4 linked regions of the Homo sapiens genome follow. The protein of the gene in region 3 interacts with the protein of the main gene of each other region in a biochemical or structural test. Each region holds a gene or a part of one and is shown on either strand. Other genes may lie near its edges. The genes, in order: LRPAP1, BDNF, SORT1 and NGF.

Region 1 (7,194 bases), on a different chromosome or scaffold from region 3:
GCAAGACTCCTGAGCAGAGGCTGTCCCTGGAGCTTTGGAGGTCAGAGGCCATGCAGAGCCCTTGTGCTCACAGACGACTTCTGAGGACTCTGCCTCTTCAGAGCTCTGTGTGTTGTGTTGATGCTGAGGAGTAAGCTCCAGGGTCTGCATGGTCCAGCTGCGGCGCTCAGGGACACACTCGTGTACCTCTTGGCCTGGGCTGCACGGTGCCATGAGCTCGGAGTCCTTGGCCATAGGTCCTTAGTTTTTTTGGTTTTTTGTTTTTTTGTTTTTTTTGAGACAGAGTCTCACTCTGTCGCCGAGGCTGGGGTGCAGTGGCGTGATCTCGGCTCACTGCAACCTCCGCCTCCCAGGTTCAAGCGATTCTCGTGCCTCAGCCTCCTGAGTAGCTGGGATTACAGGCATGCACCACCATGCCTGGCTAATTTTTATATTTTTAGTAGAGACGGGGTTTCACCATGTTGGCCAGGCTGGTCTCGAACTCCTGGGCTCAAGTGATCCTCCCGCCTCTGCCTCCTAAAGTGTTGGGATTACAGGTGTAGTCCCAGGAGGCACCGCACGCAGACAGTCCTTAGTTCTGACGTGAATGGTGACTGCAATGAGAGTGTGTGAAGCATCTTGTTCTCAGAGGTCTGACGAGTGGAAACTGAGGTCTGCAGAGAGGAGCCCTCAGAGCCCCACCCCAGCTCTCAAGCGTCCCCCCTGGCTTGAGAAGGGCCTCTGAGGATGGGCCAGCCAGTGGCCTCCATGGGCACCTAGGACTCGCCAGGCCAATGCATGACCTCACAGCAGCTCAAGGCGGGTACGGCTGTGCCCTTGTCCACGGAGCTCAGGTGGAAGGAGCTGGGGCACAGTGGCTGGGCTGGGACAGTGCATGCCACCTGCCGTGGTGAGACAGGTACAGCGTGCCAGGAAGCCTTGGTCACCGCCACAGCCTGCTCCTCATGGTGGGTGCCTTGCAGTCTGGCGCGGGCACTCAGGTGAGCGCTGGGAGGATGGCACATGCCCTCTGAAGAGGTGGTCCATTGGCGGTCCTGGTGGCATTGGAACCTGCCCAGCCTGAACTGTGCGGTGTGTGCAGGTTGACACCAGTGGTGTAGCTGTGGACCCTGGCCTGGGTTTCCTGGGGCGTTGAGAAGCAGCAGCAGGTTATTGGAAAGTTCCAGAAAGCTCTGCTGGCACGCGGGTGGTGCTGTGTGGGGAAGGGCCACTGCTGAGGTCCCAAGCAGTGCTGGGCCCTTGGGTCTGGTCAGGAGGACACGGTCGGCTCTGCTTGTGTCTGGGGACACAGGACCGGCGTCGTTTGATCAGCTGAGCCGGCTTTCTTGCCTGCATGTATACCCTGGTTGTTGATGATTTGCCTCGCTGCTTCATGTTTGACAGGTTCTTTTCTGCAGTTGGTTTCCACAGGGTACTTCTAACTTGATGCGTTAACATTTAACTTGAGAGAGGTGAAAGAATCCAGACGTGGGGTCTGGGGTCTGCACGTGACCTGCTGGTCTTCCTCTGCACAGAGCTGGGGCTGCTTTTTGTGGTGGTGCTGCCAGGCTGGCCCCTTCTGCGCTGAGCACTGGCAGCCACACATCAGGGGAAAGGGAGCTGGCTTTTGTGAGACATGCGGTGTGAAATTTAGACCCCCTGTTGCCTGAGAGTTGGGGAATCAGAGGGAGAAAATGACTTTCCCCTGTGGGTTGCAGATTTTACAGCCCACAGAGCACCTGCCCTTGATTCTCCCAGCACCCTAGGGAGGCAGACAGGAAGCCAGTGAGGACTGCAAGTTACAGGGGTTGGTGCCTGGCTGTGAGCCTGCCAGGATGGGCCCAGGACTTCAGCAGCCCTGGGTCTTCAGCTCCGCTTTCCAGCAGGCAGCCCATGGGCAGTCATGGGACACCTGCATCCTCTCCCCTGCAGCCAAAGAGGGCAGACCCGGGGCCCCTCAAGGCCAGCACACACTTGAGAGCATGGGCCTGAATTGCCTGCCCCAGGGTGCTGCTTCTGGCTCAGACCATCACTGTGGGCCTCGCATCTCAGACCCTCCCGGGCAGTGCAGCACGGTAAGTAAGGCGCCTACAGGGTAGCAGCAGCCACGGGGAAGTAGAGATGGAAGCAGACCTGTTCCTCCAGGAGTTTGGGTCACAAACAAGATAGGCAGGTGTGGGCTCCCCCTCCTCCTGAGGCACCGACTGCCCCTCCTGAGAGTTCAGCGTCACTCAGGTGCCTCATTGTCCTGGGTCCTCCTGCTGGGAATGCTCAGATCAGACCTCAGGTCTCCTAGGGCCTTCCAGTGGACGCCGCAGGCAAGTGTCCAGGGCACAGAGGGGCACGGGGTGGAGCTCTGGGGAGAAGGGGCTGGGTGGATGGGGCTGGCTGGGTGGATGGGGCTGGCTGGGGAAGAGGCACACAGGTAGGGGTGTGTCGAAGGCTGCCAGGGAAAGGGTTTTCAGGTTGGGACAATCCTGGAAAGCAGCCCCTGCAGAGATGGGGGCGCAGAGCATCTACCAGGAGGGCCCAGACAAAAGACTGTCCTGGGACCACCCACTAAGGGTTAGAGAACCTTCTAGAGAATTAGAAGCTTTCCTCTGCCCTAGGCCCTGCCATTCATTTTGTGCCTACCGTTTGCTATCTTTTTACCATTGGGGATCTTGGCTCAGTAATCTGAATTCATCCCTAACTAAATTTTAAACTCCTGGAGGGTGGGGCCTGTGTGGCTAGGGCAGCCACAGAGTCAGGCTGGGCTTCTGAGAGAAGAGAGGGCGGAGCTGACAGCCCCAGCACCCAGCTGGAGACAGGGCCTGTGGTCAGGGGTCTCCTTCCTCCCAGGCCCAACACAGACTGAGCTGCAGGGAGCAGGATGGGCTCAGTCTAGATACAGGCAGAGTGAGGCGAGGAGGTTCCGGAGTGTGGGGTGTGCCAAACACACAGAATTGGCTTCGTGCGAGTCTTGAAAGAAACGTGTGCCCCTGCGCGGCGCGGACCTGAGGGCTGGGCCTCCTGAGGTCTCGGGCTGCAAGGCAGTGTGGGCCACAAGGCGGCGCGGGCTGCGGGACACTGGGAAGGCAGCCGGCTCTTGACGCTTCGTGGGGATGTTCACTGTTTTACGTAAACTTTATTGAAATATAACACACATACTTTGGATACTAGCTTGTGTTGTATTTATGTTAGAAAATAGCTAATGAAATATAGATAAAAGATTAATATTTCAAACGTCTAAGGGAAAACAGACTCCATATTTAAACACACATGATCAGAGACAGGCGTTAGGTGATGGGCACCTGGAGCTCAGAGGCAGGAGCTGGGGTTCCCTCCTAGAGCCACGGGCAGCTCATGAGGACCAGCCCCGGGGGAATGTGAGAATGCAGGTGCTCAGGGAAGGGGACCCTCCTGAGAGCCGAGAGATTTGGGGATCTGCACTGCACAGTGCCGAGCACTTCCTTTGCTGCAGGACTCCACAGAGGCTTTAATGCGCTGGCGTCACTACAGGCATGCGGTGCAGCCTCCCCAGTTAGCCAGGGACAGCACCCTGTCTCCGTGAACCCTGGTCCCACCTCATGACACGTTCTGGTTCACACAGCTGGGCCACTCTGCTCTGCACGGAAGAGCCTTCGCTTCCCTGAAGGGCTAGCCTGCCCCAGCGCACGCCTCTTAGCGGCCGGGCCAGCCCCGAGGCCAGAGTTGATGAGAGCTGGCCGGTGGGTTTCATTCTGCTGCTTGCCTCGGCCGCCTGGCATTCTGGCCCAGTCTTTCTGACGTGGGGACACTCTTGGCCTAAATCCTGTCTTTGCAACCAAAAAGCAGTGTGCCCAGCGGTCACCTCACTTGCTTCCTTCTCTCACCCAGGGTCCCAGAGCTGGGAGGGCAGGGGTGGGATGAATGAAGCGTGGCCTGCCCTGCGGAGAGGGATGAGGGTGGGGCGGGGAAGTTCCTCAGCCCCAGTGCGGCAGCTCGTTCCGGGGCGCTGCCTGTGTGGTCTACGCCAGCAGGTAAGTGAGAGGGTGACAGATTCCTGCTCCAGAAGGATCTGGGGCTGTGTAAGAACCGTCTCAGCAAGACAGTTCGGATCATGGTACACTTGAGAGGTGGTGACTGAGGGTCTTTGGGAAATGAAGATGGGGCAGATCTGAGATTACAGTGATTTTTTTTAAAAAAGAACTTCTAGGTGTCTGTGTCCTTGCAATATGTATCTGCAATGGTAATGCAGTGGGTATCTTCTTCCTGCTCTGTTTATCCGAGTGCCCGATGACTGTCCTCAGGTGCTAGGGTGGGGTGTCCTGTTACAGCCGGACAGGAATGAGCAGCCGCTGCTGGTGGGGAGCCCCCGATGGACTTGGGGTTTCCGGATCGTGTATACAGACAGGCCTAGAGACTGGTGTCCATGTTGAGTTCTTGTCTAAACCTGTGGGGTTTGAATCCTGCTGACAGTGACCCTGACTCCACCTCTTCCTGGTCTCCCAGAACCTCCCGGTGGCCAGCCTCCTCCGAGGTCAGTTTCTCGCTGTGTCCTGGTCCGTCCTGCTCGTGGCTCACAGGCTCCTCCCCTTCGTTCGCAGCTGCATCTTCCTCCCGTGAGGCTGGCCGAGCTCCACGCTGATCTGAAGATACAGGAGAGGGACGAACTCGCCTGGAAGAAACTAAAGCTTGACGGCTTGGACGAAGATGGGGAGAAGGAAGCGAGACTCATACGCAACCTCAATGGTACGTTTGTTTCTTTCCTAATGCAGGTCGAGTATCCCTCTTCCTAAATGCTTGAGAGCGGCAGTGTTTTGGATGTCGGATTTTGTTTTTGGATTTGGGAATATTTGCATTATGCTTAATCTGGATATCCAAAATGAGCCTTTCCCCGAGCATCCTGAGTGCCCAGAAAGCTTAGGATTTGTGTTGGGGGCTCACCCTCATGAGGGAGGTGGCCACTGGCTTCAGTGTTTGGGGGGGCTAACCCTCATGAGGGATGGTGGCTGCTCGCCTCAGTGCTGTGGGCTACGCCTCTGACTCCTTGGCTTTTGGCCAAGGGGCCCATTGGGCACAGCCTGCGGGGGGCTATCCTCCGAGCACAGATGCGCCCTTGGCCGTGGTCTCAGTTTGCTGTCACAGATGCCATTGGCACGCCAGAGGGAGGGCCAAGGCAGGGGCTCTGGGTGCAGGAAGGGGCCGGAGGACAGCAGGAGGCTCTGTCACCCAGAGGAGGAAGCAGGTCTGCCCTAGCATCTTGAAGTTTTGGGGACATACTCCAGATGTCATCAGAATGGACACTTGGTTGTCATGCGCTTAGTGAGTCCTCGTCCCTGTGGGTATTCAAGAAGAGGCAGGACAGTCGCCTGCTTGGTACCAGCATACGGAAGACAGGTGTGTCCTCAGAGCCGGGAGGGTTTTAAATGACAGAGTTGCGACTGTTCCTTTTGGACCCCTCTCCTCCGCCATCCTCCCTCACCACGGGCCCGTCGGCAGGGCACTGGCGGGCAGAGGACGCACACCAGGTGGGCCCGTGGGACTGGGGTTGGGGCTGCTCCGGAGAGTCGAGTGCTCAGCTGCCTGCTGTCAGCTATGTGTAGCAGCCCTAGGAGCTGCTGTGCCTCCACCCAACTGCTGCCCCTGGGCCTGACCCCAGGCACCCCTTCCCCAATCCCCTCCCCCGCTGCTCCCTGTGTGACCTGGGCCCCCGGCACAGTCCCCTGCCCCCCACCTCCGTTTCCTCCTCCTGTCTCACAGGACGGTGGTGTGAACCAAGTGGGATACTCCCCACTGTGGTGGGGGTGGGGGTGGCTGCCATCGCACTTGTTGCTGTCGTGAGGGTGGCCCCAGAGCCCTGGCCATGTCTGGAGTCTGCTGTAGCCCTGCTTTTCACACGCGCTGATGGCCTCAGGCATTGCAGCGCCCGGGTTGTCTCTGGTAAAGAGAGGAGGTGTCTACGGAGTTCCTTCGTTAGGCCTGATGCTCTAACACCTACTCCTCAAAACTCGTTGTCGTCCCATTTGACAGGCTCAGAGAGGGTGATTTGTCTGGAGTTGCAGAGCCGAGTAGTGCAGCAAAGATTTGGAGTCAGGGTTTTCTGACTCCTGAGCAGGTGGTCTGTTCCCAGCCACCCCTCTTCTCCCATTGGCAGGCATCAGCAGACATGTCATGTGGCTGCGCCCGGGTTAAAGACAGAGGGCCGGCTTCATTTTTGCTGGTTTATGCCACCATGTTCAAGAGTCTGGTTGAGACGTAAGCCAAGATACGGCGGCAGGGACTGCCTGGGGAAGAGAGACATGGCTGAAACAATTCTGGATGGTTGCGTCCCCACCAGCGTGTCTAGTGGGCCATTCCCAAGGGCCAAGAAAGAGCCTGTCCTGGAGGTGCCCCCAGGAAGAAGGGACTGGCTATGCAGCAGGGCAGCATTCGGGGCCTGGAGGAGACAGAGTAGCTTGCAGGGGGCACAGAAGTGGGCTAAGAACCAGCTCCCTCCTGCAGGCCAGGCAGTGTCCTTGCAGGGTGTCCAGGTCTGTGGCCCAAGTGGAGCTGTCTTGTTTTCTGCCATTGCCTAGTGACCTGGCAGAAAACTTAGTGGGACTCTAGGAGCCGGCGTCCCAGAAGCAGACCCTGCCCACACTCAGGAAAGAGGCTCGTCCTGGCCAGTTCCCCGCCATCTTCTGGGTGTGGTCCCTGGACCCCCGAGGTCCCCCGTGCCATTATCAAGTGTGATACCATACCTGGGGGACCAGCCATAGCCAGGTGTGCCTGCCCTTGGCACCCTCCATGCTGAGGTCCACCCTGAGACAGACGGGCCACGCTCCACTCTGCCCTGCCCTGCTCTGCTCTGGGGTTCGCTCCTGTCCTCACCCCCACCGCGCCCCCAGGGCCACTTCACTCCCCAGGCAGGGAGTGTGGGGCGGCGTCCGTCCTCCCCAGGCAGGGGGTGTGGGGCGGCGTCTGTCCTCCCCAGGCAGGGGGTGTGGGGCGGCGTCCGTCCTCCCCAGGCAGGGGGTGTGGGGCGGCGTCTGTCCTCCCCAGGCAGGGGGTGTGGGGCGGCGTCCGACTTCCCCAGGCAGGGAGTGTGGGGTGGCGTCTGTCCTCCCCGGGCAGGGCGTGTGGGATGACGTCCGTCCTCCCCAGGCAGGGAGTGTGGGGCCGTGTTCATCCTCCCCAGGAGCTCTAAGGGCTCGGTGCTCCTGAGGCCGCCTCCAGCTTCAGTGCTCTGTGACTCCATTCCATGCAGAAGAA
Region 2 (7,194 bases), on a different chromosome or scaffold from region 3:
ACAACTCTCAATGCAAGTGAATATACACAGAAATGGGCAGCAGGATGGTCATTTGCCTGTCTGTCTTGCTTGGGAGTAAAAGAGAAGGCTAGGAACATGGCTGTAGGTTTGGTACTAGAAGAAAAGTGGGACCTATTCCGACTTCCTGATCCTGTGATTTTTTTCTTTTTTTGAGATTCACACACACACACACACACAAACTATGCACAAGTTTGCTTCCATGTTGTATAGCAAGAGTTTAAATATTTCTGAGTTAATGATGCCAAACTGTGCTCCGATTATATCAGCATATTTACATGATCCTTGAACACCACATATAGATTCCTATACTACACATTTAAGCAAAATCACCTCCTGACTTCACAATGAAAGAGACCTATTGGATTAAAAAGTGGTTTCTAGTAAACCCCAAAGAGATACTGTTACTAAATTACTAAATTTAAAGGCAAAATAGTATTCACTAAACTGATTTTTCTGTCTTATTTTCCTTATTTGGCATAATCATTAACCAACTTCTAGTAAATGGAAGCATTCTCACAATTTAAGTTTTTTTAGGGGGAAACACACAATTTATAAATACTGTCAAGTGAAGAACAGATTCCTGAATACTAAAAGACCCATGCATATCCTTGTATGTAAAAAAAAAAAAAATCCATCATAAAATCATAGACTCAAACACCATCTTTGATTCAGTAGTTCTCCCTCTACTGTGGCTTCTGCTATAGAGTCATTGTTAAAAAGAGTTCTTCATGAAAGATTCTCACATAGCAAAATGCTTTAAGAAAATGTCTAACAAACATTTTTATTGTCTCAATTTGTACACAAACTGACACCTGAAAATCAGAGAGGATAAAGAACTTCAATCTTTAAAAAAGAGAGGTAAGTTATTCCAAAATGCTACCAGTCAATAATTAAAAATACAGTTTGGGGGCAAGAAGTTCTGAAATAACTCAGAGAACTTGCTCAAGATTTTACTTTTGGACCAGTCCTCTTTGGGAGGGAGTATGTGAATAGGTAATGAAAGCCTTATATGAGAGAGTCAATGGAGAGCCATATCAAGGAGCACCTGAAGATATATGGATCAATACAGGGAAAAGAAATCCAAGTAGCCCAGTGCCTGACACTCACTGGGCACTCAATTAATGCACGGTGAATTAACAAATGAATTAATGAAAGAACCATTTGCTACATATAACATTCTTACTTTAAGAAAAAAGAATTTGAAACAGAAGAAAACATACACGCAAGAACACATACAAACTATAAACTATATGATATCCTAAAGGAGATGTAAATATTAAACTGTTTGCTTTGCTGACTGACACTATTAATACCTAAAAGCAGTATGAGAGATCACAAAGAATAAGTACTCATTCATACTTGGAGTGGGCTGCTCATCTTATGGTCTAACTTGCATTTTATGTCATGGCCATGTTGCTTAATCTCCAGCTGTTCTACAGAAGAGCAAAATAAGTTATAAATAAATTATTAAAGAAAAAAAGTAACTCTATCCATGCTGAGGCCTGAGGGAGTTGGGGGAGGAGTCAATTCCTTTTAGTTTATATTTAAAAAGAGAAACTCTTTGGAAAACTGTAATATCTGAAGATTTTGTGGTTTCCAAAAGTGAAGGTGAACGGTGAGAAGTTTTCTTAGTTTAGCTACTGAACCCTAAAAAAATATAACCTCAAAAGTTAATTTCTTAAGCAATTTGGGCACCTGAATTTGATAAGAACTTTTTTTTCCAGACATTCTGTTCTGTCTAACCCAAAGGAAAAATAGCCAATTTTGAGAATCTGTATACAAATAAGGAAAAGTAAAATACAGCGCTTTGCAAAGAAATGGGAGGGATTTCTGATACTCAATTCATGATGCTAAACACTTCAAGTAGATGATTCAAAGGCAGAAATATATAACTGTTCTCATTAGGATTGTTTATGGACTATAAATAAGGAGCAGACTTATGGCCAATGCATTAGAAAAAAACAAGTACAAAGGCACTTCAGAAAATACCTTACTCCAACCTCCCATTTTAGTGTCATTTCTAAAAGGGTTTCATTTCAGCCTTCCTACCTTTCTTCCTTCCTTCCCTTCCTTCCCTCCAACGGGGTCTCACTCTGTCACCCAGGCTGAAGAGCAGTGGGACAATCACGGCTCACTGCAGCCCCAACCTCCTGGGCTCAAACGATCCTACTGCCTCAGCCTCCCAAGTAGCTGGGACTACAAGTGCCTGTCACCAGGCTTGGATAATTTTTTTTGTCTTTTGTAAAGATGGGGTCTTGCTATGTTGTCCAGACTCGTAATGATCTCCTGGGCTCAAGTGATCCTCCCACCTCAGCCTCCCAGAGTGCTGGGATTACAGGCATGAGCCACCACACCAGACCTCTTTTTTCTTTATTATATATTCCTCTAATAAAGTGCTCTGTATGCAGTGAGCATTCAATATTTGCTAAATTAAATTAATGGAAAGTTTTCTAACTACCATGTAGAGTATCTAAATTTACATCATTGGTTCTAGAACTGCTGTCTGAAGCAACACAAATTACACTTATGACAGTTCGTCAAATCTTTGAAGCCCATCCTCAAAATAAGGATGTCAAAAATACATCACACATGTTGACACTCTAATCTCCCAGCCACAGTAGGCATTAGCAATCTGAATGTTATTTTTACTAATCCTTCACAGTTTTAGAATTCTTCTCAACCCAACATTCAAAAACCACTTGCCATTCCAGCCTAAGTTTTCTTGTCCCTAAGTCATGCATTCCAAGTCCCCTCAACCATTGCTCACATGCAATGCTTTCAAATTCCCTATGCATCCTGGTCACAGTGATTTGAATGTACACTAATTTATCGATGATGTACCTAAAACAACTTATTTCATTTCCTTGAACTGATGATAATATTCTAGATACAGTCTATTTAAAAAGTGAAGAATTATTAGCTTCTCCATTTCAGTATTATATTTCTAGCAGTGCAGCCCAAAATTTCAGTAGCTATGATAACAGCCTCTTGTCACACCACTGGCTTATACTGAACTTGCAGTTAATTTAAAACATTCAAGCTTCCTTTCTACAATCTGCTGATAAGTCATCCCCTAAAACCGTGCCCGCAACTCTCTATTCTCTCCTAAATTGATTTTTTTGTACTTAATCATAGTATTTTACATTTAAGTAAATGTAAATGATCCAGATTCTATCATTCAACAGAATGTCTGCAATATCTGCTGGCTTTATGTTTCATATGATAAGCATATCGTCTGTGCCTTCAGACACATTATCAGCCAACATGTCGGTGCTGGATGTATTTTCCCAATGTTGCATAAGAGGAATACCTTCGAGAGTTTGGCCTAGGAATGTGGCCTGGGACTCCGCCAAGCATCTCTCTCCAGCAAAATGACTGCAAATTTCTCGACCTTCAGATTCTACATGATGTAAAAGAAGTTTGTCTGTGTTTAAAAACACATTCAAGAAATAAGTGAACATGTGAAAAGACAGAAAAACTTGTTTTAATTTGGGCATAGTTTCAGTTTTCAAAGGCACATGAAGGCAGAAAGAAAGAATCACAAAATGGAACTACTGATGATAGCAACTCCAAAACCAAGACTGATTAGACTAAATCCCATGTGGCAAAAATTTTATTTAGTAAGTTTCCTTCTCCCTCTCTCCCTTTAGATATATGTGCATACACACACACGCACCTTTATTTTAGTAATTTTTTTTTTCTGAAAAAGAAAGTTTTCTGCACCTGATTGCTTCCATGAATAACACAAAGCACAAACAATATGACTTTCTTTGGTTATCATGCAATTTTTTCTCTGCTTACCAGAAATTGGCACAAATTTAAGATATACTATATTCTACTCCCTGAAGCACAGTCGCTGGCATCTCCACTGGCATTTAAAAATTTGAAGACATTTAAAAGAAAATCCACAAGCTTATAGTTGCTGTCTAAATCAACTTTAACATTTCATATATTCACAATTTCATAAGTGAATCAAATTACACATAAGAAATTATAGAACTAAGCCAACTAAATGACTTTTATAATAGGTACTGGGGAAAAATATTATTAAACCTTTTCCTCCAATTTCTGCCTTTCTTCCAGCAAGACAAACCATTTTCATGAAGTTTCTGTCTACATCACTAGTGATAATCTGAAGCAGCCATTAATCAATCTATTAGTGCATTCAGCAACATTTATCAAAGTGCCTCCCCAGAACTGTTTTGGATGCTGTTGTGGGCGCATGCAAAAATGAACTAAATATAGATTTTTGTCATCCAAGAATTTTAAGTCAATTTGTAATTATTGGTTCCTGGTTCCATAACTTTTTTTTTTTTTTTTTTTGGTGCTGGCTCAGATGTATACCTTCATCTATTCTAAGGTTAAGGCAATCCTTATAATTTTCTTCCTTTTTCTTGTTTGTTTGTTTTTTGTGTGTGTGTTTAAAATCTTGCTTATATTTGACTTTATTTTATTCTCACATCTTCTGAGTACATTAAAGTTAAAGGTAGATCATAAATCGAAAACATTCTTAAAGGTCTCTCTACTCAAATTATTTGGTGTTATTGTATCTCAGAAAGTATAATGAATTGCCTGTAGCAAATAAATAAAATCAGAACCTTTATACTCAATGGTTCGGTTTGGTACATATCCATGAAAATAATAAATGTTAAAAAGGATGCTAGCCGTTGATTCCTGGCATGCTATTCTACATTTGGCTACATTACAACGTTAAAAGGATTTAGTGCATATATCAAATTGTGGATCTGCTTGTTTTAAAATTTCATCTGTAATTCCACATGCAACCCCCACCCCCATACACACTCACAAGATCTGAATATGGTAACAAGGAAATCCTAGTAACTGTAGCGTTGGAAAAATGGTTCATATGGAAATAAGCCATTTGGCTAGTAAAGCTGGTGATTTTGTTCTCTAGGTGGCACTATTACTTCAATTTTTGGTGAGTTGCTTAAATTACTTGGAACTGCCCGTTTATTTTCTTTGAATTCCCATTTTATAAATTTTAATTTTATACAAGCTAGTTGTAATTAAACGACAGGTTGCCTTCTAGGTTTTATTTCAGTAAGTCAATTTGAAGTTCAGTGATTTTTTATCATATAATTTTATGTTTCCTTACTATACTGTCTTAGTTTTAAGAAATCCTCCCTTGCCTGACCTCCTCTCTCCAAAAATGCAGAGGCATGTCAAAAACACAGAGGGTCGTCATAAAGTTTCCGTCAGACCAAAGGAACCAAGATGAAAGCATGTTTAAGAGCTACTAGGTTCTGGGAGATTTCAAAATCAGGACATTACTACCATGACAACCAATGAAAAGTTCTTTCAAGTGAACCTTTGGGGAAAACTATATAACGTTCCTTACTCTCTAGGCTCTCTGGAAATAAACTTTTACTTTATTATGGCTGTCACTAAAGCTTGTAAATTTACTTTGCTTCCTTCCAATCGTTCTCCTGTCCCACACTCAGCCCCCTAACTCACTTAATGCAACCCATCCTCAAACATCAATCTATAAATGAGACATCAGGGCAATGAGCCACTTCTTAGCATCTAGTATATTTGATAAGATTTGTCTCATCAAGAGGATAAGTGCCCTAGAGCTTCTACTTGAACTTAAATACTTAATTTAAATGAAAGCTTCCACACTTATCTGACCAGATACTCAAATTTTTCTACAGAAAAGAGAATACCTTCCTGTTCCACTTAAAGAACACACACATTTACCACTCCCCCTCCTCTCCCCTGCAAAAGGTTTTCAATGTCAGTACATTAGTGAGCTCCATTTTGCATCTGCCATCAATAATGATTCCATATAGTCAATAATTGGGTTCATGACCTTTCTAAATCTTTACAGTGTAAATATTCTGGAAATCCAGTGAGGCACTTAAGTATAAAATTATTTAGGATTAAATAATTCTATGCCTTAAGTAGAAGTTTAAGAGGACGTTTAGGACACACATGACTAAGCCTACAAATACCAAAGCCACTCTATGTTTCCTAGGTTTAAATACCACATGCAAATAACATACGGATTTCATTTGCCAGCATCATTTATTGCCTAACATTACTCCATACTAAACAGAGTAAATGGATGCAGAGTGTAACCAGTAAGTTTGCTCATTCACTTTTGAAGCTCATCTGTGCATGTTATTCATCCTAATAAAGAAAATTTATCACAACACAACTTGATGCGATTCTTGTTCAAATGATTTCCTCTTCCATTGAACAACAGCCAGCACTTAAAACCTAGAATTCCACAGAATTCTCTCCTCGATTCCTCTTTAAAATGCAATTCACAGTTTGAGATCACAGAGCCTGCCAGTGGCTGAATGGCTGCACTAGATGGCTGAGAGTCCTTCAATTAAGCAACAATTTTGCAATTAGTGGAAACTGAGTGCTCTATAACAATTGTTTGAAAACAAGTTGAGACAAGTTAGCAATTACCCTATAAAAGGGACATATTCACTTTTGTTGGATAGGCGAGACCCCTCACACAAATTGAACTCTTCCACACAGGGAGATGCAAGTTGAAAATTAATGTTTTAATCACTAAAATCAAATCCATATTATGGGCACCTGAAATGGGAGTGCCTTTCTTCTCAAAAGATATTCAGAGTTTAGCTATCATCCACTCTCTATGCTGTCTGTTTTTATTCAGGAAGTCTGAAATTGTTCTTCTGTACTCCGGGATTAATTTCCTACATCTCAAAATGTTAATAAACTACTTGAACATGACCTTTCCATTCTGTAAATTTCCTTAAGAGTAAGTCTACGATTGAGACCCAAAGCTGCTGGCTGTGTTATATTTCACAGTTCACAGTTCTCTCTCTCTCTCTCTCCCCCTCTACACACACGCGCACGTGCACGCACACACACACACACACACACAGAGAGAGAGAGAGAGAGAGAGAGAGAGAGAGCACCCCAGGTTTTAGAAGATGAATGTAAAAAGAATGTAAACAAGTTCTCTGCTATACTATCAGGTGGGCGTGCCCAGCTCACTGTGCGTGCTGAACTACAAACCAGTGCTATTCATATAAGAAATGATATCAATCATCTACATTTTGACTATTGAAAAGCTGGGACTCTTAAAGATTCCAGGAAAAAGGGAATAGCTTACATTTTCATGGCGCCCCTTTTAAACAGGAAACCCACGGACTTTGAGCCAGGATTTTAGAA
Region 3 (7,194 bases):
AATGCCAGGCCAGCCCCGTTACCCTGGGGTGGGTATGGATGGCCCTGGGCTCCCCTCCGTATCCTGGTATCGTGACGAAGGCCATGAGAACCAGCTCTGGTTTACAGACTCGATGCAGGAGCTGGAGGTGGCCAGCACATTACCAGCCTGTCAAGGATGAAAGACCACCTTGGGCATGGAGAGGCCCAGAGGCAAGCATCAGAGCAAGAGAGAGGAGGTGGGAAGTCCATTCAGAGGCAGACGTAGATTCTACGTTCCAGTTACGGCTGATCTATGGACTCTCCTGAGCCCGCCCCCAGAACTGCCGCAACTCTCCAAAGGCTTTTATTCTTTGAAATAGAGTTGCCATTGAATTAAAAGCCTACAGGAGAGACGGGCCTGGTCTGTGGTCTCACTAAAGCCCAATGCCCAATTAGGTCCAGAGAAGAAAGAAGAGTGAGTTCCCTACCTGGATTTAAGAACTCGGACCACTTTGGACTGGTTTGTCCAATCTCTCTTATAATGCTAAATTCCATTGCTGAAGCCTCCAGAAATGATCTCTTCTGCTACATCAAGCCTGGGAGTTTACACAATGATACACTATGTTTTACCTTCAAAGATAATGCTCCTAACATGAGTAGGACAAATTAGAAATCTATTTTTTTAGAAGCTGTAACAGATTTGGGCTTTCTTACTCTCTGGCTGAGGGCACACATTTGTGAGTGAGCAGGTTGATAAAGAAAGCTAACTAGCCAATAATGAGAATGAGCCAGGCTGGCTGTCAGTCTTCAAACCAACAGAGCTAGCCAGCCCGGGGTGGAAACCAGGATGGGGAGGGAGACCCATCAGTGGAGAGTCCACTCCTGCACTCTTGAGCAGTGACCCTCAATGAGGGGAGGGGCAGTTTCTGCAAACGTATTTAAAATTCCCATTACTTTTGTTTTCAGCCATGAAAGACAGGAAAATACAATTTTCTGTTCACCAAGGTGGCAAAAAGGTGCTAAATACTGCTAGGAAACAAATGCCACTGATCCCTGTCATAAAGAACAGCAAGTCATCTACAAGAAGGCAGCCTTGCTCAAAGTGGTTAGCACTCGCATGTGTAAAGATTTCCAAGAGTTCTGAAGACAGCCAGCCAGCACTGCTTATCACACACACGGGGACCCTGAACAACTGACTCCATCCCAAGAACATTGTGAGGTTCAAATGACATTATGTGAGTGAAGGTGCTCTGAAAATTTGCCAAGTTCCACAGAAATCCCAGATATCATTAAAAGCGAAGAGCCCTATCGTATATGGTTAGAGAAGAATATTGAGTTTCCTACGTCTTAAAATGAGTAAGAGGATTACCATGTATTGGTGCATCTGCCCACAGTGAGTACATGCTGGGAGAAAGGTGAGTGGTATAAACAGTTCTTTTCTGAGTACCAAATTCACTTTGGGCAGGAGGGAGGGTGGGGCAGAGGCTGACGTTTTCATTTGTGAGCTGGTGTATCTTCGGAATTATTTTTAATTTTAAAACCATGCAAAATGAATAAGCAAAAAGACTAGTGCACTCCAGCCCTAACCATATTATCTTCACAAAAACTGCCTCAACTTTATTTTCTAACTGAAGCTCCCTGACTCATTTCATTCTACTGCAGTTTTAACATCTCTAAAAGTCTCCATCCACTCTCTCCCCCACTTTCCACGCAGCTGTTAATCCATTCTGGGGAGGAGAGAACTTAGCCATCTGCTCACATTCTGACTAAAGTTAATTTGGCACTTCAAATAAAAAAAAAAAAAAACACACAAAACTGACTTTCTAGCCACAAAATAAACTAGTAGCAAATGGTATCTACCAAAGAATGTCCCAGTCATAATCATTGGGAGAAACTGTGACCCGCACAGTAGCTACATTAAGACCAAAAACTTTCCATACTATATTTCTATATAGCAAATATTCAAGCTGTATTAAAACTAATTATTGCAGCTTTCCATTACTATATGGCCACCCCAAAATCCACCCAACTACATTCTATAATTTATTTAATTTAGAGAGGTATCAAATGGAAAACTTCTTTTAATCCAAAATAAGAACTTAATGTATCACACAAAGCATCATCTAGACTGGAAGTGTGTTTTCAATTGGTTCCTCCAAAATTTTCGTGTCAACAAATTACTTGGCAAAGTCAGAAAAAAGGGGTGAGAAGGAAAGCCTGGTAATAAAATTCTAATTTTTTAAGTCTATAAATCTGAAAAAATCTCTAGTCCTGGTTCCATGTACAACAGCAACCTAAGAAGCAGCAGATAGGCAGCCATTGTCATGATTTAGCAACGAGCCACACGACAGTTAAGAAGGGAACATGGAAGACTGTGAGGTTCCGTCTTCGGGGGTTCACACTGTGTACCCGACAATCAACTCTAGGGAAGAGATCATTCAGCCTGGGCAGACTTCCAGCTAAGTTTGTACCCTGTCCTTGCGTAAGTCTACTGGCACACACACAAAGCACAGCTTGAAAAATCTCAGAAGAAGCAAGAGTTCTCTTTTAATAGGTGCTATATCTAGTCAATTCTCTGCTGCTCCCTTCTTCCTGCCCCAAGTTAAAAATATTGCCCTGTAAGTTTTCCTGATGTACTGTGTGGGAAGCACATGGTTAAGTTAGTTGCCAAAGGGCAATTAACAAGGGTATTGCCTAATTAAACAAGGGAAAAGAAAAATCACTGTGGTCTGTGGTCTCTGAAAAAAAAAAAAAGAGTAAGTGGGATCTGTGTGAGGAGCTGGTGTGCAGTGTTCTTGGAGTAGGACTGTCCCCAGATGGAGAAAAGCCGGCCAGGCTGTGCCAGCCTCTGCAGCCTGTTTTCATCTCTACAGCTGTTTCGTCTCGCCAGCAGAGCCCAGGGATGGTACCAAGTACACTGTGAGAGCTGATACTGGAGTTGGCAGATGCCCTGGGGCAGGCGCCATGCAGAACACACAGAAGTGGGGTTAGTGAAAAGGTCCCTTCGAATTCCATTTCGTTTCCCTTAAAAAACAAAAACAAAAAAGCCCATACTTTGCAAAGAGACAGGACGAGAAATAAGAAGTTAAAGAATTTAAAATGTCTCCCTTTTTCTCAGAGCCAATTGTAAAAAAGTGCTCAGGGTTCCCCACCCCCACCCTGCATTTCTTTAGTGTAGGTCCTTTTGGCTTTGATGGAAGCAGCAGAAACAGAGCTGGGTCCCTCGCAATGGGAAATTTATTTCCTGAAGTTGGAGCCACAGGGAGTGTAAGAGGTACTGTGGTTCCACCATCCATGCTGGGTCCAGCTCCTCTGAAGAGCTATTCCAAGAGGTCCTGAAAAAGACATGCACCATATTACCGACAGACCACAACACTCCTATTTCAAAAGCAATCACCTAGTTTCTGGGCTTGCCAAATCTTATGGTCATTAAGTCGCCTTGGCCCTGGCATATCTTGATCATGAATAGAAGACAGACTTTATTTTCTTGTATTTTTTGGGGGGGGGGGTACTACCATTCAAGAAGAAATAGCCTCACCTCATCTGAGTCATCATGATAACCACTTTTATTAGTGTGGGAGGCTGTGTCCAAAGCATCCACACCATCCACACCATTGGCCTCTGCATGCTGCTGCAGCACAGAGTATCGATGCACCAGGAACCTGTGAACAGAAACCTCCTTAACACTCGGTGGTACACAGCAGGGGTGCACTTCTTACAGGACTGTGGACTTTCTCAGTTTTATACACTCAGGAACGCATCACAGACACAGAAAGCACAGTCCATGGTTGACATATGAAAAATGTACGACATGAGAAGATTTGGGCCTGATTTTTCAGGAACAGTACTGCAAGTACCTAGTTTTTGCCAAGAGTAGACTCAGCCATATGCCCTAGATCAGCCTTCTGGCTTGAACTCAGTACCTTGGATTGACTTCTGTGTTCCTTACCTTCCCCCACAGACATATTTCTTCACAATGAGCACTCCTGCTACGACTGTGACCAGCATCAATCCCACGATGGCCAGGATAATTGGAACAGAATTTGACTTGGAATTCTTGAGAAATTAAAACACAAACACAAAAGTTTTAGGCATGCATATCCTAGGACTGAGGTCAAGGCAGCCACTCATTCCCCTCATCTCTTTGTGAATGATCTGCAGTCCTGATGCGCTTAATGATGGCTCTTTTCCAACCCCCCAAGATGAACCATCTCAGTGTTACCAGGAGAATATTATAGCTGGCAGAGAGTCATCTTAGCTCCAACTGCCTTGAACCTTCAAATTCTGTGGTTTAAATGTCAAAGTTACACTGGAAGCCTGGGCAACTGCCTAGATCAAGTATGATTGCTTCACACTACCACTGTTCACAAGTCTTGGGGCTTAAGGGTGGAGTAGGAAAGGGAGACTACTGTAACAGTAGGCTGAATGACTCTAGAACAGGGCCATTATCTGGGAAGAAGCTGTGTCAGAAGAACCAGGCAGGCCATTATATGACACCAAGATTTATTTGTTTACTTAATTTTTTATATATTATTATAAATAAGCCTTATCATATCACTGTTTGCATGTGACCTACCTGCTTCTGGGTGGGAAATAGGGAGTGTGTGTTTTCAATGTATCCCAGAGGAGGCAGAGCTGGATTCTAGGACAAGCTGTGTCCCTGTGGGTGGGAGTCCTGTGCAATCACACACACGAACACTCTGAGGAGAGTCACCAGGAGCCCAGGACAAGGGTGCACAGAAGGAGGAACTCGCCCCCTTACCAATACACACACTCACACACTCCTCTCCCATCATCTCCTTAATCCCACCCCTTGTCAGTCCCTCATCCCTTAGAACAGCAGAGAGGAGGGACTGCAGGTGATCCAGCTTGACCTCTCCTATTACGAATTGGGAAACGGGCCTGCTGTTGAGCATCTGAAGTCATGCTGCTGGTCTAGTGTTTCATTATCAAGAGGTTTCCTCTTTACACATCTCCAGTTCCACAGGTAGTTCAGTGCTACAGATTTGGATGCAGCCTCATAACCTTTTTTTTTTTTTTTTTTTTTTAAATTGAGACAGGATCTCACTCTGTCACCCAGGCTGGAGTGCAGTGATATGATCATGGCTCACTGCAGCCTTGACCTCCCAGGCTCAGGTGATTCTCTCCCTTCAGCCTCCTGAGTAGCTGGGACTACAGGCACACACCACCACATCCGGCTAATTTTTGTATTTTTTTTGTAAAGATGGAGTTTCTCCATGTTGCCCAGGCTGCTCTCCAATTCATAGCCTCAACTGATCTCCCCACCTCAGCCTCCCAAAGTGCTGGGACTATACAGGAGTAAGCCACCATGCCCGACAGGTAACTTGCTTCATTTAAATCAAAACCAGCCCATTACCATAGCTCAATTTTTCACTTTGAACATACTTAACATGACTTGGTCAGAGATCCACCCTACCTATTGCCCAGTGCTCTTCTCTTCCACACATGCACAATTCCAGGTCATGGCCCTTCACAGACAACCTTTTTTTTTTGGTACGGAGTCTTGCTCTGTTGCCCAGGTTGGAGTGTAGCAGCACGATCTCGGCTCACTGCAACCTCCACCTCCCAGGTTCACATGATTCTCCTACCTCAGCCTCCCGAGTAACTGGGACTACAGGCGTAAACCACCACACCCAGCTAATTTTTGTAATTTTAATTTTTGTATTTTTAGCAGAGACAGGGTTTCACCATGTTGGACAGCCTGGTCTTGAACTCCTGACCTCAGTGATCTGCCTGCCTTGGACTTCCAAAGTGCTGGGATTACAGGTGTGAGCCACTGTACCCAGCCCACAGACAACCTTTTTGTTTTCCTAAATGACTCTCAGCCTCAGAAATTTCCACAACTGTATGATTTTAAGAATTTTACAACTTTACAGAATATCATCCCCCAACCCTCAATAAGAAAAGAGCTTTCAGTAGGGTGAGCTTATCACTGGGTTACATGACCCATCCTTCATGCTAACAGCTTCCTGTATAAGGGAAGCCTGAGAGAAGTAGTTTGACCACTTTTTATCAGTAACAAAACTCTTGATGCTTTAACTTTGATTTTTCTTAGCAGAACACAAAATCCCATTTGTACCTGAAAACTAGACCTATTTTAACATACCTGTTTTTCCGGACTCAAAAAGTTGCTTGTGCATTTCTTTTTCAAGTCTTTTACTTCTCGAACTGGATTTACCCCACCCTGGCATTTGTCCCCTGGAATTTTCCGGTACCTACCAGGCAAAGAAGATTTGGTAACAGAAGATAAGGATGTATTCCTGGGTACCTGCCTATTTCTTGGAAACAAGATTTGAAAAGCTGCCGAAAAGCTTCCCATCCTTACGTCATGTTTCAGGCCTGGGGGGAATGTCCACAGGGATGTTTTGGGGGATATTTTGTGTAGTTTCAGGCCTTAAGCAAACTAAGCATCTCTGTCCCCTGCTGTCAGAAACATGCCTGTTCTTTCTACCTAAGAGACTGTGCCAAAGAAATCTGACCCCAAAAAAGCTCATTAACAAGTGGTACAAAATGGGAGAGGGGAAGTTATCAGGGGAGCGAGGTAATGAGGCCCGTCTAGAGCAGCACTGTCCAATATGGTGGCTACTTAAAATTGATTAAAACGAAAATTTCAGTTCCTCGGTTACACTAGTGTCCACAGCTATGTGTGGCTAGTGACTATCATATTGGGCACAGCAAATTACAGAACACTTCCATCACCAAAGAAAGTCCTATCAGACAGAGCTCTCCCTGGCTGTGCCTAAACTGTGCCAGACGAGCGATGGACGTTCATGGCGGATGGGACGCTTCTGTCATTCTGCCTGTGGGTCCCTCGCCTCTCCTCCCTTCCTGGGGGTGGTTGGGCGGGAGGCAGGGGTGCAGGATCTGGCCGAGCTTGTTCTCCTGCTCTGCCTCGTGGTGTTGGTGGGGTTGAGTCCTCTGACACCAAGCACTCATGGCTCACCTCCTGTAGTTGACCCTTGAAGGAGGCCTTCATATCCTGCCCCTCCCCAACCCCGCCAAAAATAGTGCTCTAAAGTAGGGCTTGGATCTCAGTGTGGAGAGAAGCAGCTTTCACTCTGAACAAGAACACCTCATCCATCGTGACAAGGGAGAAAAGGCCACCTCACCCATTTGTTGTTAGGTGTTCTTCTCTTCCGTACAGACAAAACTCCAGGTCGTGGCCCTTCAGTTCTGGCTGTTCCACACACTTGGAGTCATTTTCTGGACGGTA
Region 4 (7,486 bases), 6.0 Mb from region 3:
ACTTTGTGGCTGAAGGTTTATTCTCCTCGGCTCAAATAGTGACGTTTCTATGCTTCTGCACAGCCTAATAAAAGACCGAGGACCCCAAAGCCTCAGTTTCTCCATTCACATATCAGCCTCAGGATCATCCTGGCCTTACTGCTATTTGGAGTTAGGATCTTAACTATTTTCCCACTGTTATCAAGCGATGTCTCATGGGAATGGATTGGGGAAGGGTCTTTCATCCTCATTTATTTACCCAATGCCAGTGTACACTGTTTTCTCAAAATGGTCCACCACAGAAGTGATTTCTCAGAACTGGCTAAGCCTGAGAGCTGATGGTTTGTGAGATCAGCTAGTGAAAGAAACACACAGGAACTCTTTCTGTGTCACAGAAAGGTGTTTTCTGGGAGCATGGGTTGTTTGCACACAGATATCCAGAGATTTTATGCAAGCCGTCAGCAAACCTTCCACTGCTTCCTGAGATCAGAGAATTTGCTGCCAGCAAAGGTCTCTTAAGGCTTGCTCTAGACTCTGAAGTCAGTGAAAGTTCTTACTTGGAAAAGGTAAATGGCTGGGCCTCTGCTCCCAGGTCTGGCACTGACATCTGCTTGGGGATCTGGGCCTTGGCCCTACTCCATGCCCAGTAGAGAAGAGCAGTGGCTGAATCTCTGTGTAGTTTCCCTGCTGCTCTGATGCAGGGTACTGCAGTAAAGCACTCCATCAATGAGCAGCAGGAGTGCTCAGCACTCTTTAAAAAGTAAAGTTGTGTGATTTTTTTCATCAGTTTATTCTCGGTAATGATGAGAAACTTCCCTCGGGCTCCAGCCCTGCCCTGCCCTACCCTACTCTCCCTGCTGATGTCGGCAACCAGGGCCCCCTTCTTGTCCAAGGCACAGATTTCTCCCTGAAAGAGAATGAGAGTGTGAAGCCTCATTCCTTGCTCCCACTGGCCCTTGGGGCAGGAGAGTTGTGGGGTGGGCAATAGGAGAAGGCAAGAACCTCATTCCTTGGTACAGGTTAAAAGTAGGGAAAGAGTCACCAATACCGGGATGACTGCCCTGAGTGGGCCCAGTTCATTTCTCTGGTGGGCCTGGGCTGCTGTTGGAAATGCAGTGGTGCCAGCAGCTGGTTCTAAAATCCTCTGAGGTGCTCCTATACTTCTGTCAAATTAGTGTTCTCATGCCCCAGTGATCTTGGCTTCCCATTTTTGGTGCTTCCTTTTTCCCTTCACCTGCATAAAGATGTTGGGGAAAGAGTGGGGTAGGAGTTTGGCAACATGTGGCATTAACCCTATCCCCCTTCAACAAGAGGAATGTTCACTTTCTGTGTGAGTCAATTCCAGCTAGGCCAGTCTCAGCCCCCAGACCCGCCTGTCTCCTCTGACCCTCTGGAAACACTGCCCATCATGAATTGACATTTGGGTTGCTCAGGTTGACGTATGACTTATTCAACAAAAGAGACCCATCAGGTTTGATACAGCCTTTCTTCTTTCTTCTGTGACTCTGCAGAGGGAGAAAGTTTCAGACATTCAGGAGGAAACTGTAAACACAGGATAAGAAGGGCTGGCAGGGGCCAATGGCTGCTGCCCTTCTGCACTGCCTCGAGAAGGGGAAAGATTCCCTTCCAGCAGACTTAACTGACGGCTTCAAGAGTTTGAGGACCCTGGAGAGAAGTTACTGATGGGGTCTCCACTGTCATTTCTGCATTTGCAGAGTGCAGCTGGCTGTGCATGGATTGGGGAGGAGGGGACTGGCACTGGCAGTGGGTGTGCCCAGAGGATGGAGCCAGAACAATTAATCAAGTGACTTTTCTACAGGATTTCCATTGGCCTTGGATGACAGATGGGGCAGAGGCACCCAGGAGAGCACTATTTTGGTTTCCAGCTGGGAACGTGCACTAAGTTTTCCTTAATACCCACAGCACCCAAAAGGCTTTGCTGTAATACACTTTAATGCATGAAACACTCATAAATTATCCTTCGAACTGTTACAACTTCCAACCTGGAACAACTTGGAAAAACCAGCCTAGCAAGCAGGCTCTTTTTTAATCTCTCAAATCACAAGAGAAGAAAAAGTTCAAGCACGAAACACCTTCCTTAAGAATCTCGAAATTTTTTTTGTTTTGTTTTTGTTTTTTTTTTTTTTTTTTTTTTTTTTTTTTTTTTTTTTAGAAGGAGGTTTGTAATTAGAGGGAGCTAAGCTGCTTGTTTCTGCTGGCTCAAAGTTGCAGCTCCCTGACCCCTGAGTCCTCTCTCCCTCCCCTAGATCCTCCTCGCCTGAACTCAAGGCGCTCCCCGCCCTAACCTTCCACGCCCGCTTCTCCCACACCTGGCAGCAGACAGCTGGAGATGAAGCGTGTGACCCAAGTGGCAGGGCTGAACCTTGGCGACCTCTACCTGAGGTTGTCCAACGCGGCTCCGTGGAGGGCCCCGGTACGCCGGACGGACCCCGGCGTTGGCTCGCAGACTTCCTGCGTTAACCCCCGGGGCCCTCAGTCACGACTCCCAGCCCTTCCGAGACGCGCTGAGGGAACTGCCCCAGGTCTAGCGCGCCCCGTTCCGCTCCTCCCCCTACCTGGGGGCCGCGCAGCACTTTCCCTACTCGGCGCTCACCTCAGCCAGCGCGCTCTGCGCTCCCCCCGCGGTGCTGGCCGCCACTCCTCCCGCCCTGGCGCGCCAGCTGCCGGCGCATCCCTCTCCGCGCCCATTCGCTCTCCCTCACTTGCGCGTTATCCACTTCTAGCCCTCGAGCTAGACCCTGGCATGGCCGTGGGCTTCTGCAGGCGCCAGGGCTGCTCCCTGGACTGCAGGCCATCCTGGGACTAGGGACTCCACGACCAGAACTAACGCTGTTCCCTCGGTCCGACTCGTCCTCCCGCGAGGGTCCCGCGCCCCCACACCCACTCGGGACATTTCTCAGGGCTGCTCTTCGGCCTGCGGGAGCCTCGGGGGTAACCAGAGAGCTCGCCAGACCGGTATCCTTGCAAACTCTCCCGCGAAGCCCAGCCACCCCTGCCCGCGCCCGCGCTGCGCCCCTCTCGGGATCGGCTCGGGGCAGCCTGACTCACCGCTGCGCTCCCCTCCGGCTCCCAGCGCTCTCTGCTGTGCCGGAGCGCCGAGCTGCTCTCACACAGGCTTCTTGAATTCTTAGCCCCTCCTCCCGTACTCCTGAGTCACACGCTCCAAATCCTGGCCCCCATCCCTCCCCTCCCCACCACCAGCCCCGCACCTGCTGTGGCTGGGCTGTGGTGCCCGGCTGGAGGGGGTCCTGGGGACTACAGACGGATCGCTCCTGGAGGGCTGGCCAGACCCAGCCAGAGAAGGACTTTAAACCTTCAGAGGTCAAAGGGAAACCCACTGGGGTCTGAGGGGCCGCGCGCGCAAAGCCGGGAGGGGGAGTTTCTGGGGCACCGGCAGGGGTCGTTGGGCCGACTGGCTGGGGCTGGGCGGAGTTGCTCGCAGCTTCCCTCACCTCTCCGCCCTGCCCCCGCGCGTTGCCCTTCGCCAGTGCCTCCCTGGTCTGCCCGGCGTCGCCCTCGGTGCCCCAGGCATCGGCTGCTCCTTTTCTTCGGGGCGCCTTTCCTTATCCCAGGATAGGTGAGCACCCAGGGGGAGCTCCGCGAGGGGCAGGTGCCCAAGCTCCTCTGACAAGGGAAGGCGGCTGCAGAACCAGCTAGAAGGCCCCCAGGCCCGGCAAGTCCAGCATGGGGACAAGGGGCAGAGGACTTCAGGAGTCAGGAGCTAGAGCCGGGACCTTAACTTAAGGCCCTGGGTTCCAGGAACTTCCCGGAGTCCTTGGCCCCTCTGAAACTGTAGGCTGATTTGCGCGACTGTGTGCAATGCTAATATTCTTTTCTGAGCTGAAGGTCCGCAGCTTTCATCAGTTTTGCAAGGGGTCTGTGACCCCAGACTGATATAGCCAGCAAACCCTAGGCCCCCATGCCCCCCTCTCCACACTCCAGGCCCCACACAAATTCTTCCTGACCCTTCAAAATTTCTTGAGTTCCCTCGATTCAGCCTGACAGGAGAGCTTGCCTGACTTTCCCCTGCCCCTCTGCCAGGGCTGTTCCCACCCCAGCATAAAATGAGCAAGGGAGAAATACCCCTGAAGTCAAATTTGTCACCAAATGTGCATCATTAATTGTAGCATTCCAGGGGATTCGTAGCTCTTTGGAAATTTACAGCCCCACTCCCTCCCGTGTTGAGCTTGTCTGTGCCTTCGCTTCTTCCTATAGCAAAGGTGGGTTGGACCCCTACCCTGTATGGATGCCACAGAGGAGAAGTAGGTGTGAGGAGAGTAACAGGGAGGGAAGGTGGGGCACAGAATCTCCCTATTGCTGGTAACACCAGCCAGTGCAACTTAGCAGAAGGGCACCCTCCAGGGAACTGGGATTTAGTGAAGCAGATGATTCCTGTCCTAAGTCTGGGGGTGGTCATTTACCCTTAATGGATGGCACTTGAGCAAGATGAAGCCCTGACTAGGCATTTCCAACTCCCTTGATTCAGATTAGTCTTGAGGTCTTACTTCTTTCTATTTTCACGTTTGCTCCCATAAGAAAGTTCATTCCATTTACACATGCTCTGAGAAGGATGAAATAGGCAAAAAGCCCTGGAATTGGAAGTCAGCCTTAGCTTTGGTGTGACCTTGTTGTTTCCCAGCCTTAGGCTTGTCCACTTCTGACTTGTTCAGATACAGGCTGGTGTATGAACACACTTTGGAAGTGAGGGCAAGAGGCCAGGGAACACTGTGAATGGCCCTTTCTACAAAAGTAGTATCATAGTCGAGGTGATCCATTAGGAAATTTATCATCGTCAATTAAACAAAAGAATTTCCAGATAACAGGATGAATTCATCCATCAATCATGTCATGTATAAACTTGTTTGGAAAGCACTAGCCCCAAGCCTTACATAATAGCTGCCTGAGAATTTGGGTATGAAATTAAACTTTTAGAATAACAGAGAATTTGGTTGTTGAATGCAGAGCATTTGTATGTGTTCTTGTGGCATCATTCAGAAGGACAAAAGGATTTGGGACACTTGTGGTTCTTTTCCATGTGGTATGTAAGGGGGAAACTTTAAGTGATGTAAGCAGATTATAAGTTTGCTTATATGCTCCATCCTCACCCCCTAAATTGTTGGTCATATTCTTCTTGCACATGTTGATTTAATAAGAGCTCCTTTCTGCCCCTAACTACCTCTATTTCTGTCCCTGGACTTCAAGGATCTTGAGTAAATAAGAACATGTAAACAACAAACACAAAAATACTCCAAAGATTATTGATTGAGAGCCTACCATATGCCAGGCACTGTGTGCTGGCAGTGGTACCGGCTCTCAGAGAGCTTATGTTCTAGTGGGGGCTTGATTATTAGTCCCTGGCCATGTTTATCACAGTTTCCCTAGGTCCTAGCATAGGACCTGGCCTATAGTAGGTGCTCAGTTAATACTTGTTGAATCCAACAACGGTCAGAGTCATTTGTGACTGTCAGACAACCCACCAACACTGGATTGGTTTCCAGCAGGTTCCAGATCAGCCTGCCTTTGGCACAGAGACCACAGCCAGGTGCCTTTTCCCCTGCCTCTTCCACTTTCAAGAAGGTTCAAACAGAAATGTCCTTCTCTTGGGTCATTGAGAGAAGGACTTCTGGGCCTGGACCAGCTACATTCATAGGAATGAAAAACAGCTGAGAGGGCAGCGGCCAGAGGAATGGTGCAGACAAGCAGAGGATAAGAATGTTTTTCTGTACTAGATTTTCTCGAAAGAGCCTTTTATCCAGGGTATCAAAATAACCAGCAGCTGATGCATTTGCTGACTTGGAGGAGAGATTGTGGCGTGTACAGTAATTGTTGTTATTTCTGAAGATCTAGAAGGCTGCAGCCATTGAGTGCCTCATCAACAGCAACAGTCAGCTAGCACAAACCCCTGGCTTCTCCCTTGCTTCATTCCAGGAGGCCAGGACAAAGTGCATGTGCTATTTAAAACACCAGCAGGCTCAGCAGAGATCTGCCAGCAAGGATGGAATCACTGGATCTGCTAGTTCTTCATGTGAAACACAGAAATATTGTCCCAATTGCTGGAGGAAGTGATAGCTTCCGTTTAAAGACTTTTTTTTCCTCTTCCTTCTAATCAGAGTGAAGAAGAACTTCAGAAGAGGAAATGTTTCATAATGCTTAGTGAGATGACATGTTCACAGAATCACAGAAATGATCAATCCAGCCACCTTATTTATGGATGAAGAAACAAGGGCTCAGGAAGGACAAAGGCTCAGCCAAATACACGTGGCCAGTGTCCGGCTTTTTGACTTCTAAGCAAGCCTTCCTTTTACTACACTCCCTGAAAGAGGCTGGGAGAAAAACTGACCAATTCAGTCTACAGGAAAAAGCTGGTAAAGGAGCTAAAGTAGGCAAGGGTGCAGAGAGGGCCAGGGGTGCCCCCTTCTCCTCTGGGCTATCCCTGCCTACTCCTGTGGCCTGTTCCTGGCTTTTGCTGTTTCTCGCTGAGATCTCCAGTTCCTCCATCTCTACTAGTTCCCTCGCTTTTGCTTGTGAACATTCACTTGCCTTTTCTCTCTTAAAGAAACTGCTAGCCCAAACTCTGGATTTCTTAGCTTCCATTCACTACCAAATTCTTCAGCAAGGTAATCTATACCCATCATTTCCTTGGCACCCCCTCCCCGAAACTTTCTGCAACCAAGTTCCCATCTTCCTCCCCTACCTTTCCTTTCTCCCTACTAAACTGATAATTTTTTTTAAAGGTCGTTAGTTGCAAGAACACCACCAACACCAACACAATCTCAGCAGCATTTATCTAGTGCTTGCCTTATTTCAAGTACTGGGCAAGGCATTTTTCCTAGCCTTATTAATTGGTCCTATTGATTTGTAGATAAGATGAAACTCTGAGAGGTAAGTCACTTCCCAGGTCTCATAGCTAGCCAAACGGCTGAGTAGAGAATTGAACCCAATCCCTTGCTGTTAAATGCCACGCCTCCTCCTCCTTTCAGCCAAGCTCAGCTGACTTTGACAGTCCTAGTCCACTCTATTCATGACCTCCTTTGTCTACAACTTTCCTTTCAGAACTCCTGTGACCACACTATCCTGGCTTACTAGCCACCTCTCTGATTTCATCTGCCCTCTGCACTCATGGGCCTCCCACAACTCAGTCCTGGGGCTTTACATTCTCCTCCACTCTTGTTCTTCCAGGTGTTTTTTTCTACTAATTTTATAATTCCAAGCATGGTTTCAACTCTGGCCTCTCCTTTAATCACCAACACTTTGAGTGTTATGTGCGAAGCACTACCTAGGTTCTTGTTTCAGCGAATCTGCACAGGCCCTGGCGAGGACTGTGTTTCTGCCTCTCCTCTGACTCTCAGCCCCTCCATCCAAAGCCCTTGCTCTTAACTCAGCCAGGCAGCTGCCCCACAGATCCCATTCTTGAAAGGTCAGGAAATCCACGTGGGCCCAGGACAGTTCAGCTCTTTTCCTGCAGCCCAGGAAAGTCACCAGTTTG

What was found.
Region 1: the proteins of SORT1 (region 3) and LRPAP1 form a complex in vitro, tested with the Homo sapiens proteins (4 studies listed by BioGRID and IntAct, with this or other methods).
Region 2: the proteins of SORT1 (region 3) and BDNF form a complex in vitro, tested with the Homo sapiens proteins (2 studies listed by BioGRID and IntAct, with this or other methods).
Region 4: the proteins of SORT1 (region 3) and NGF form a complex in vitro, tested with the Homo sapiens proteins (3 studies listed by BioGRID and IntAct, with this or other methods).

Annotation. Positions count from the first base shown.
Region 1 is NC_000004.12:3,522,405-3,529,598, reverse strand, and holds part of LRPAP1 (alpha-2-macroglobulin receptor-associated protein precursor), read left to right. Parts: intron 1-4,547; coding exon 4,548-4,692; intron 4,693-7,194. UniProt on the Homo sapiens protein: Molecular chaperone for LDL receptor-related proteins that may regulate their ligand binding activity along the secretory pathway.
Region 2 is NC_000011.10:27,690,262-27,697,455, forward strand, and holds part of BDNF (neurotrophic factor BDNF precursor form isoform a preproprotein), read right to left. Parts: intron 880-7,194; exon of another isoform or gene 845-879; intron 1-844. UniProt on the Homo sapiens protein: Important signaling molecule that activates signaling cascades downstream of NTRK2. During development, promotes the survival and differentiation of selected neuronal populations of the peripheral and central nervous systems.
Region 3 is NC_000001.11:109,310,763-109,317,956, forward strand, and holds part of SORT1 (sortilin isoform 1 preproprotein), read right to left. Parts: coding exon 7,091-7,194; intron 6,197-7,090; coding exon 6,088-6,196; intron 4,017-6,087; coding exon 3,910-4,016; intron 3,623-3,909; coding exon 3,499-3,622; intron 3,296-3,498; coding exon 3,281-3,295; 3' UTR 1-3,280.
Region 4 is NC_000001.11:115,335,156-115,342,641, forward strand, and holds the start of NGF (beta-nerve growth factor precursor), read right to left. Parts: upstream 3,095-7,486; 5' UTR 3,049-3,094; intron 1-3,048. UniProt on the Homo sapiens protein: Nerve growth factor is important for the development and maintenance of the sympathetic and sensory nervous systems.